Linked DNA regions of Homo sapiens. The protein of the gene in region 2 purifies or fractionates together with the protein of the main gene of each other region. This does not show direct contact. Each region holds a gene or a part of one and is shown on either strand. Other genes may lie near its edges.

The links. Proteins that work in one complex are often made in the same cells at the same time.
Region 1: the proteins of COL2A1 (region 2) and PLOD1 purify together in Homo sapiens (affinity purification with mass spectrometry; 2 studies listed by BioGRID and IntAct, with this or other methods). This does not show direct contact.

The regions. Positions count from the first base shown.
Region 1 is NC_000001.11:11,955,217-11,958,716, reverse strand, and holds part of PLOD1 (procollagen-lysine,2-oxoglutarate 5-dioxygenase 1 isoform 2 precursor), read right to left. Parts: intron 1,801-3,500; coding exon 1,703-1,800; intron 876-1,702; coding exon 774-875; intron 202-773; coding exon 70-201; intron 1-69. UniProt on the Homo sapiens protein: Part of a complex composed of PLOD1, P3H3 and P3H4 that catalyzes hydroxylation of lysine residues in collagen alpha chains and is required for normal assembly and cross-linkling of collagen fibrils.
Region 2 is NC_000012.12:47,983,977-47,987,476, reverse strand, and holds part of COL2A1 (collagen alpha-1(II) chain isoform 1 precursor), read left to right. Parts: intron 1-163; coding exon 164-208; intron 209-300; coding exon 301-399; intron 400-588; coding exon 589-642; intron 643-1,033; coding exon 1,034-1,141; intron 1,142-1,511; coding exon 1,512-1,565; intron 1,566-1,650; coding exon 1,651-1,749; intron 1,750-1,889; coding exon 1,890-1,943; intron 1,944-2,383; coding exon 2,384-2,482; intron 2,483-2,877; coding exon 2,878-2,931; intron 2,932-3,336; coding exon 3,337-3,390; intron 3,391-3,500. UniProt on the Homo sapiens protein: Type II collagen is specific for cartilaginous tissues. It is essential for the normal embryonic development of the skeleton, for linear growth and for the ability of cartilage to resist compressive forces.

The sequences.
Region 1 (3,500 bases), on a different chromosome or scaffold from region 2:
GGGCTACCTTGTGAAGCTGGGCCCTGGATCTAAGCCACATGACGACCCCACAGAGCGCCTGTTACTCACGTGGTTGTGGATGAAAAGTCGCATGTGTTTCTGGGGGTAGTGGAGCCGCAGGAGCCGCTGGAAGAACAGGGACACAAACGGCGTGGGCTGTTCGATGAACACGCCGACCAGGACCGTGGGCAGAGCTTCATCCTGCACCAGGGAGGGCGGCACAAGAGTCCAGCAGTGTCCAGTCACAGCACTGCCACTCCACCCCAGGGTGGCCCAAGGGAGTCAGAGCCAGAATCAGAAGCATGTAGACTTCCCAAGAAAGGTGCCCGGGCCGGGGAACTCCAGTCAGGGGGTACGGGGGGGCAGGGAAGCAGCAGGAGGGTGCCCCGGGGAGAGAGCAGCAGGAGCCCAGGCCTGGAACAAGGACTCGGTTGAGGGCCTGCTGTCAGGAGATCGTGGCTGGCGTGGTGTTCGAGGTGAGTCATAAATGAGGATGAGGTTCATGGGATGGGGAGGGGGCTGCAGGAGAGCCTGAAGGACCAGGCAGAAGAAACCAGAACCTGGACATCTCGGGGGAAGCTAGAGACATGCAATCTGAGAGGGCTTCCAGGAGGAGGCACTTGGGTGGCAACCGGGATAGAACCCCAGGCAGGGAGGTGACCCCTTCACTTTCCACCAAAGACAATGGAGTCTATTCCAGAATCACCCATCTCGCCATCTCAGGGGACTGAGCCCCCCGTGTCCCTCAGGCACAGGCCTGGGCGCAGCCTCACCCCAATGCCCTTGAGGCTGCGCAAGCCTTCGTCACACACGGTGCAGCCTGTTTCGAAGGTCCAGAAGCGCGGGATGTAGTTGCCCAGGTAGTTCAACTGCAGCTGTCGGGGAGACGTGGGGTCACAGAGAAGCCAGCCAGCCCCACCTGCCATAGCCCTGACTCACATCTCCCTGGGCCCCCAGTGGGTCAGCACCATCCAGCCCCCTCCCACTCCCTAAGAGGGTCTTGGAGATAATGCTCCATCCCCAGGAGATCACCAAGCCGCTCTGAGAGAGGGCAGGGGAGGGCTTGGCACTCTAGTGCTTCTCCCGAGAGCTTGTAAAATGCAGATTCCTGGGTCCCACCCCGCTCAGAGATTCCATCTGAACAGATCCTGGGTGAAATCAGCAAATTTGCATTTTAAACACATCACATCCTCCTTCCTCTCCCTCATTCCAGCGGTGAAGGACCACACTCAAATATGCTATGAGCTATGAGCCAGTTCCCCAGGGACCAGTGAGGTCCATTCTGTCCCTGGCCGCATCTGCACCCAGTCCCTTCTGTCACCATGAATGCAGGACATCCGTCCTGCTTATGACTATGTCTTACTGTCTGGTGCAAACATGAAATAAAGGTTTACTGAGTGAATAAGTGACTCTGCCCTGGGGTGACAGTGCAGATGGCTCTGGTAGCCCAGCCTAGGCCTGGAAGGGGATGGCAGCCTCCTACGTGTCCTGTGACCAGCAAGAACAGACAGAGTACCACTGACCACCACAGCAGGAAAAGAAGGCATCACGCTGAGCTCAGATGTGAGGACAGAGGCAGTGAGTTCATAGCAGGCCCCAGGAAGGTGGCCCTGGCCCCAGGGAGACACTGTGGGGTCACAGTGAGAATGAAATTAGGGCTCTGGCCCCCTCCCACACTCCCCAGGGGCTGGGGACCCCCTACCTTGGTTGGCCCGTTGCCATGGATCAGGACCGGGAGGGTGTCATAGGCCAGGTTCCTCGCTCTCACATGGCCCATTTCAAACTTGAGCACGACCTCATCTGGGGGTCAGAAAGCACAGTCCCACCCAGCATCAGACCCAGAGGTCAGGCTCAGGGTCCAACCAGCTGGGCTCAAATCCCAGCTGTGCAGTGAGTAGATTATGTCCTCGGGCAAGTCACTTCTCTCTAAGCCTCAGTTTCCTCATCTATAAAATAGGAATAATCCCTTCTTCATGGGGTGAGGGGGAGGATTTGTGTTGAACAAGCGTGGGGCACCAAGCCTGGCCCATCATGAGCACAGAATCCACGGCAACCCCTGTACTTGTTGTGGTTACTTACAGTCAGAAGCAGGGGCTGGGAGAAGAACGAAGACCTGGAACATCCCAGCTCCAGGCACCTCAGAGAAGCCCCAAGAGAAAGGGTCTGGGACGCGCCTTCTCTGAGTAGGCAGAGCAGCACTGAGAAAATGCCAGAGCCACATGCAGGGGAGGCCTGGGCATGATCAGGACAGATCTTGTCCCAGTGGAGGGAGCCCCTGCAGCAGGGTTCCAATACTCATGTTTTTTGTGTGTGTTTTTGTTTTTTGTTTTTTAGAAATGGAGTCTCATTCTATTGCCCAGTGTGGAGTGTAGTGGCATGATCTCGGCTCACTGCAACCTCCGCCTCCCAGGTTCAAGTGATTTTCCTGCCTCAGCCTCCTGAGTAGCTGGGATTACAGGCACATGCCACCACACCCAGCTAATTTTTGTATTTTTAGTAGAGACGGGGTTTCACCATGTTGGTCAGGCTGGTCTTGAACTCATGACCTCTGGTGATCCACCCGCCTTGGCCTCCCAAAGTGCTGGGATTACAGTGCCTGGCCCCCAATACCCATGTTTGACCCTATTAGTCTGCACATAGGAAAATGGGTATTTCAGCTGGGCACGCTGGCGCACACCTGTAATCCCAGCACTTTGGGAGGCCAAGGTGGGAGGATCACTTGAGCCCAGGAGTTTGAGACAAGCCTGCGCAACATAGTGAGACCCTGTCTCTATTTTAAAAATTAAAATAGGGCTGGGCACGATGGCTCACGTCTGTAATCTCAGCACTTTGGGAGGCCAAGGCAGGTGGATCACCTGAGGTCAGGAGTTCGAGACCAGCCTGGCCAACATGGTGAAACCCCATCTCTACTAAAAAAATACAAAAATTAGCCGGGCATGGTGGTGTGCGCCTGTAATCCCAGCTACTTGGGAGGCTGAGGCAGGAGAATCACTTGAACCTGGGAGGCGGAGGTTGCAGTGAGTCGAGAATTCGCCACTGCATTCCAGCCTGGGCGATGGAGCAAGACTCCATCTTAAAAAAGAAGAAAAAAAAAGGAAAACAGATAGCTCCTGACCTGCGTGGATCTGAACTCAGTGCTTCTTAACCCCCAGAAACCACAGGCAAAGGGCATTTTCTGCGTTTCTCTGGGAGCAGAGCCGTAGCTTTCATCAGATTCTCAAAAGGGCCCATTTATCCACAAAATCAGCAATCAGTGGATCCGGTTCACTTCCCTTTTGTAAAGATAAGAAAACTGAGTCCCCTGTGGGGAGGAGGTGTGACTTGCCTGAGGTCACTCAGGAAGACAGGAAGACCTGCGGCAAAGCAATGTCATCACCAGCCACAGACATGAGGCCAGGCCCAGGGATGTTTGCGGCATCAAGGGTCAAGTAGCCTTTTGCTTCCCAAGCTGCCTGTCCCACCAGCTGAGTTCCTGCCCCTAGCCCAGGACTCCTTCACCT
Region 2 (3,500 bases):
CTAGATGTATTCCCTTCTATCCCATCTTCCCCTTGAAACACATAGTGGGAATGTCCCTGAAATGGACAGCACCTATGCCAGGTCCCTGGATCTGGATCCTGGAGGGCTGGAGGTGGTTGGGGTTCATTCTTTGCTGCTTATTTGACAATGTCTCCCTTTTCAGGGTAACCCTGGAACAGATGGAATTCCTGGAGCCAAAGGATCTGCTGTGAGTGTTGCCCGTGGACTTTGCTACCCCAGGAGAGCCCAGTCCTGCCTCTCCCCTCTCCTGACACCCCTCCCTTCTTCTCATGCCCACAGGGTGCTCCTGGCATTGCTGGTGCTCCTGGCTTCCCTGGGCCACGGGGCCCTCCTGGCCCTCAAGGTGCAACTGGTCCTCTGGGCCCGAAAGGTCAGACGGTAAGAGCCCAAAGTGACCCCCAAGTTCCACTGACATCTCTGGAGTCAAACCCCATCACCCCTCTTTCCCATGCTCTCCTGCCCTGGCCTCACAGCGGCCTCCATCCGAGGGCATCTTGAACAGGGGTTCTGGGGAGGGGCAGGCTCCCTGGAGAGAATCTGGTGTGAGGACCTGCCTCTCTTTTCAAGGGTGAACCTGGTATTGCTGGCTTCAAAGGTGAACAAGGCCCCAAGGGAGAACCTGTGAGTATCTGCCCCCAAGCCCTTGTCTTCTCTGCTGCTGTTCTATGAGGCACAGGCCTCAGCCCCACTGACCCACCACCTCCCTCCTCCAGGGCTCTATCCCCCAATCTGGGTCCTTTCAGATTATGCCTGGAGGAGACTTAACAGGGCTGAGAAGGCCCAGATACAGCTTCAGCTCCCATCCTTGGTTTGGCTAGTGTGAACAGTTGGATCTTTAGCCCCTCTCACTTCCCTCTGCCCTGCCATGGCTCGTCCTTTATGGCCTCTCGTCCTCAAGCCCCCCCCCAGCCCTGAAACAGTTGCCAAGGCTACTTCCTTCATACTCTGAGTCGAGGCTTGCTCCAAGGCCAGGTGAAGGCTCACTCTGTTTCTCTTTTTTGCTGGTCCTCAGGGCCCTGCTGGCCCCCAGGGAGCCCCTGGACCCGCTGGTGAAGAAGGCAAGAGAGGTGCCCGTGGAGAGCCTGGTGGCGTTGGGCCCATCGGTCCCCCTGGAGAAAGAGTTAAGTGAATGTGGAGGCTCCATCCCATGGGGCCTGTGACCTCGAGAGGGAAGTGGAGTCCTTGTGGTCCGTGTTCTGGTCAAGTCTCGTGACTTTTCCGCATGTCATCCTCCTCTTTCTCCATCCACACCGCGGGGAGAGGGAGTCTGATCCTGATTTGTGCCGCCAACCACCAGACTGACATGAAATAGTCTGAGCTCCTTCCCAGGAAGCGGGGCAGGCTCCAGAAGTTAACCTCTGAGAATCCTGCAGGCCACAGCTACTGCTCCCCAGAAATTGGGGTTGGTGGGTTAGTGGGATGGACCCACTGGAGCCTGGCTGGGTTGGGGCTGTTCTCACTCACTGCCTCTCCTCCCTGTGGCTCCTTAGGGTGCTCCCGGCAACCGCGGTTTCCCAGGTCAAGATGGTCTGGCAGGTCCCAAGGTGAGTGGGAGAAGAGGGGCTGGGGTCCCTCCCTGCATCGCTGAGGTCACATGGTATCCCACTGACTCCCTGTGTACCCTTGTAGGGAGCCCCTGGAGAGCGAGGGCCCAGTGGTCTTGCTGGCCCCAAGGGAGCCAACGGTGACCCTGGCCGTCCTGGAGAACCTGGCCTTCCTGGAGCCCGGGTAAGTAGCAGAGCTGCTGTTGCCCTTGGCTTCAGACCCTCAGGCCCTTCCTGGCTGGCTCCTTCCAGCCCTGCACTGCCAGGATTGGGAGGTCCTGGGGCCGGCTCCTGACCCCACCCTCTTCTCTCTCCTGAACAAAGGGTCTCACTGGCCGCCCTGGTGATGCTGGTCCTCAAGGCAAAGTTGGCCCTTCTGTAAGTCTATCCTCTGAGGGCTGCTAGGAGGGTGGGGGGATCTCCCTGGGGAAGCAAGGGAAAAGAGAGATGGAGTTTGGGTTAGGGAGGCCTGAAGTACTGTGAATTTTGAGAATTGTGACAGGGGGTAGATGGTAGGCACTGGGGCCAGATGTAACCTGTGCAGTAGCTGTGAGCACTGAAAATGCCACCCCAGTATGCATTCGGGGCTTATCCTTGGGGGAATGATGACATCGTGTGTGCACTTTCTGGGGCAGCTTTCTAAGCTCAGCGGTGTCTTGTTGTAGATGGGCCCATGGGTGTGATGTGGTCAATCCTAGATGCTGAGCATGTGTGGCTGGTGCCTAGTCCTGGGCCTGCCATGTAGGCCCTTAGTGGATGTTGGGTGGATGGATGTGGTCAGAGTGTCTATGTTCTGAGAATGGTGTTCTGTCTTTCAGGGAGCCCCTGGTGAAGATGGTCGTCCTGGACCTCCAGGTCCTCAGGGGGCTCGTGGGCAGCCTGGTGTCATGGGTTTCCCTGGCCCCAAAGGTGCCAACGTAAGTAATAATTTGCTCTTCTATTTCCTTCCATGTGGTGCTACCTACCTCCCTGCCCTCTTGGGGAAAGGGCTGGGTCCTGAGTAGAGTTTAACCAGGGACAGTGATGAGTGGGGCTCCTGTGCCATGGGTGGCAGTGGGGGTCTGTATGTGATTTGGGGAAAATCCATGGCCCCACAGAGCCTCGGGGCATTGCGGCCATAATTGTTCCATGTGGCAGTGCCCAGCAGGCTGGTTGCCATTATGGCCCCTGAACAGAAGAGAAGGGCTGATACTTTGCTTTATCTTGGCTGTCCATCAGGATGTGGCCCCAGGCCTCAGTCCCTGCAGCCCGCTCTGCCCCCAACTCCCTCCCAAACCATCCGCCTCATGGCCCTGCCCTCTCTTTCCTTCAGGGTGAGCCTGGCAAAGCTGGTGAGAAGGGACTGCCTGGTGCTCCTGGTCTGAGGGTAAGTATCCTTCCCCGCTGCCCATGACTTGGTGTTGGCCGGGCATCTGCAGGGAGGACAGGGGAACGGCCTCCCCATGGCATGGTCCCGGGACCCCTCAGTATTGAGTGTTGATCTCTGTGGCTGAGCCCCATGCTGGCTGGGCCCTTTGGGTGTCTACACAGGGAGACTTCTGTTTGCCATTGGTCAGCAGGCCGGGGAGCTGGGGAAGGCTTCCATGCTGAGAACAGCTAAGAAAAGACGGGGCCTGGGAAGGAAGGGAGGGGAAGGTGTGGAAATGGAGCTCAGCTGGGGTACCGTGGAGGTCTGGAAACTCTGGGCCAGAAGTACCTTTGCCCAATCCTAGGGGGACTGCAAGTGGGAAGAAAAGCGTGTCATTGACTTTTCTTTTTCTCTTCTGTCTAGGGTCTTCCTGGCAAAGATGGTGAGACAGGTGCTGCAGGACCCCCTGGCCCTGCTGTAAGTACCTGCCCAGCCTCCCCAGGTGGCCCTGGGGGCAGGGGCTGGGAGGGGTGGGGGTGGGAGAGCCCATCCATTAATGGAGCTGACAGATGTGAATGTGGGCTGAG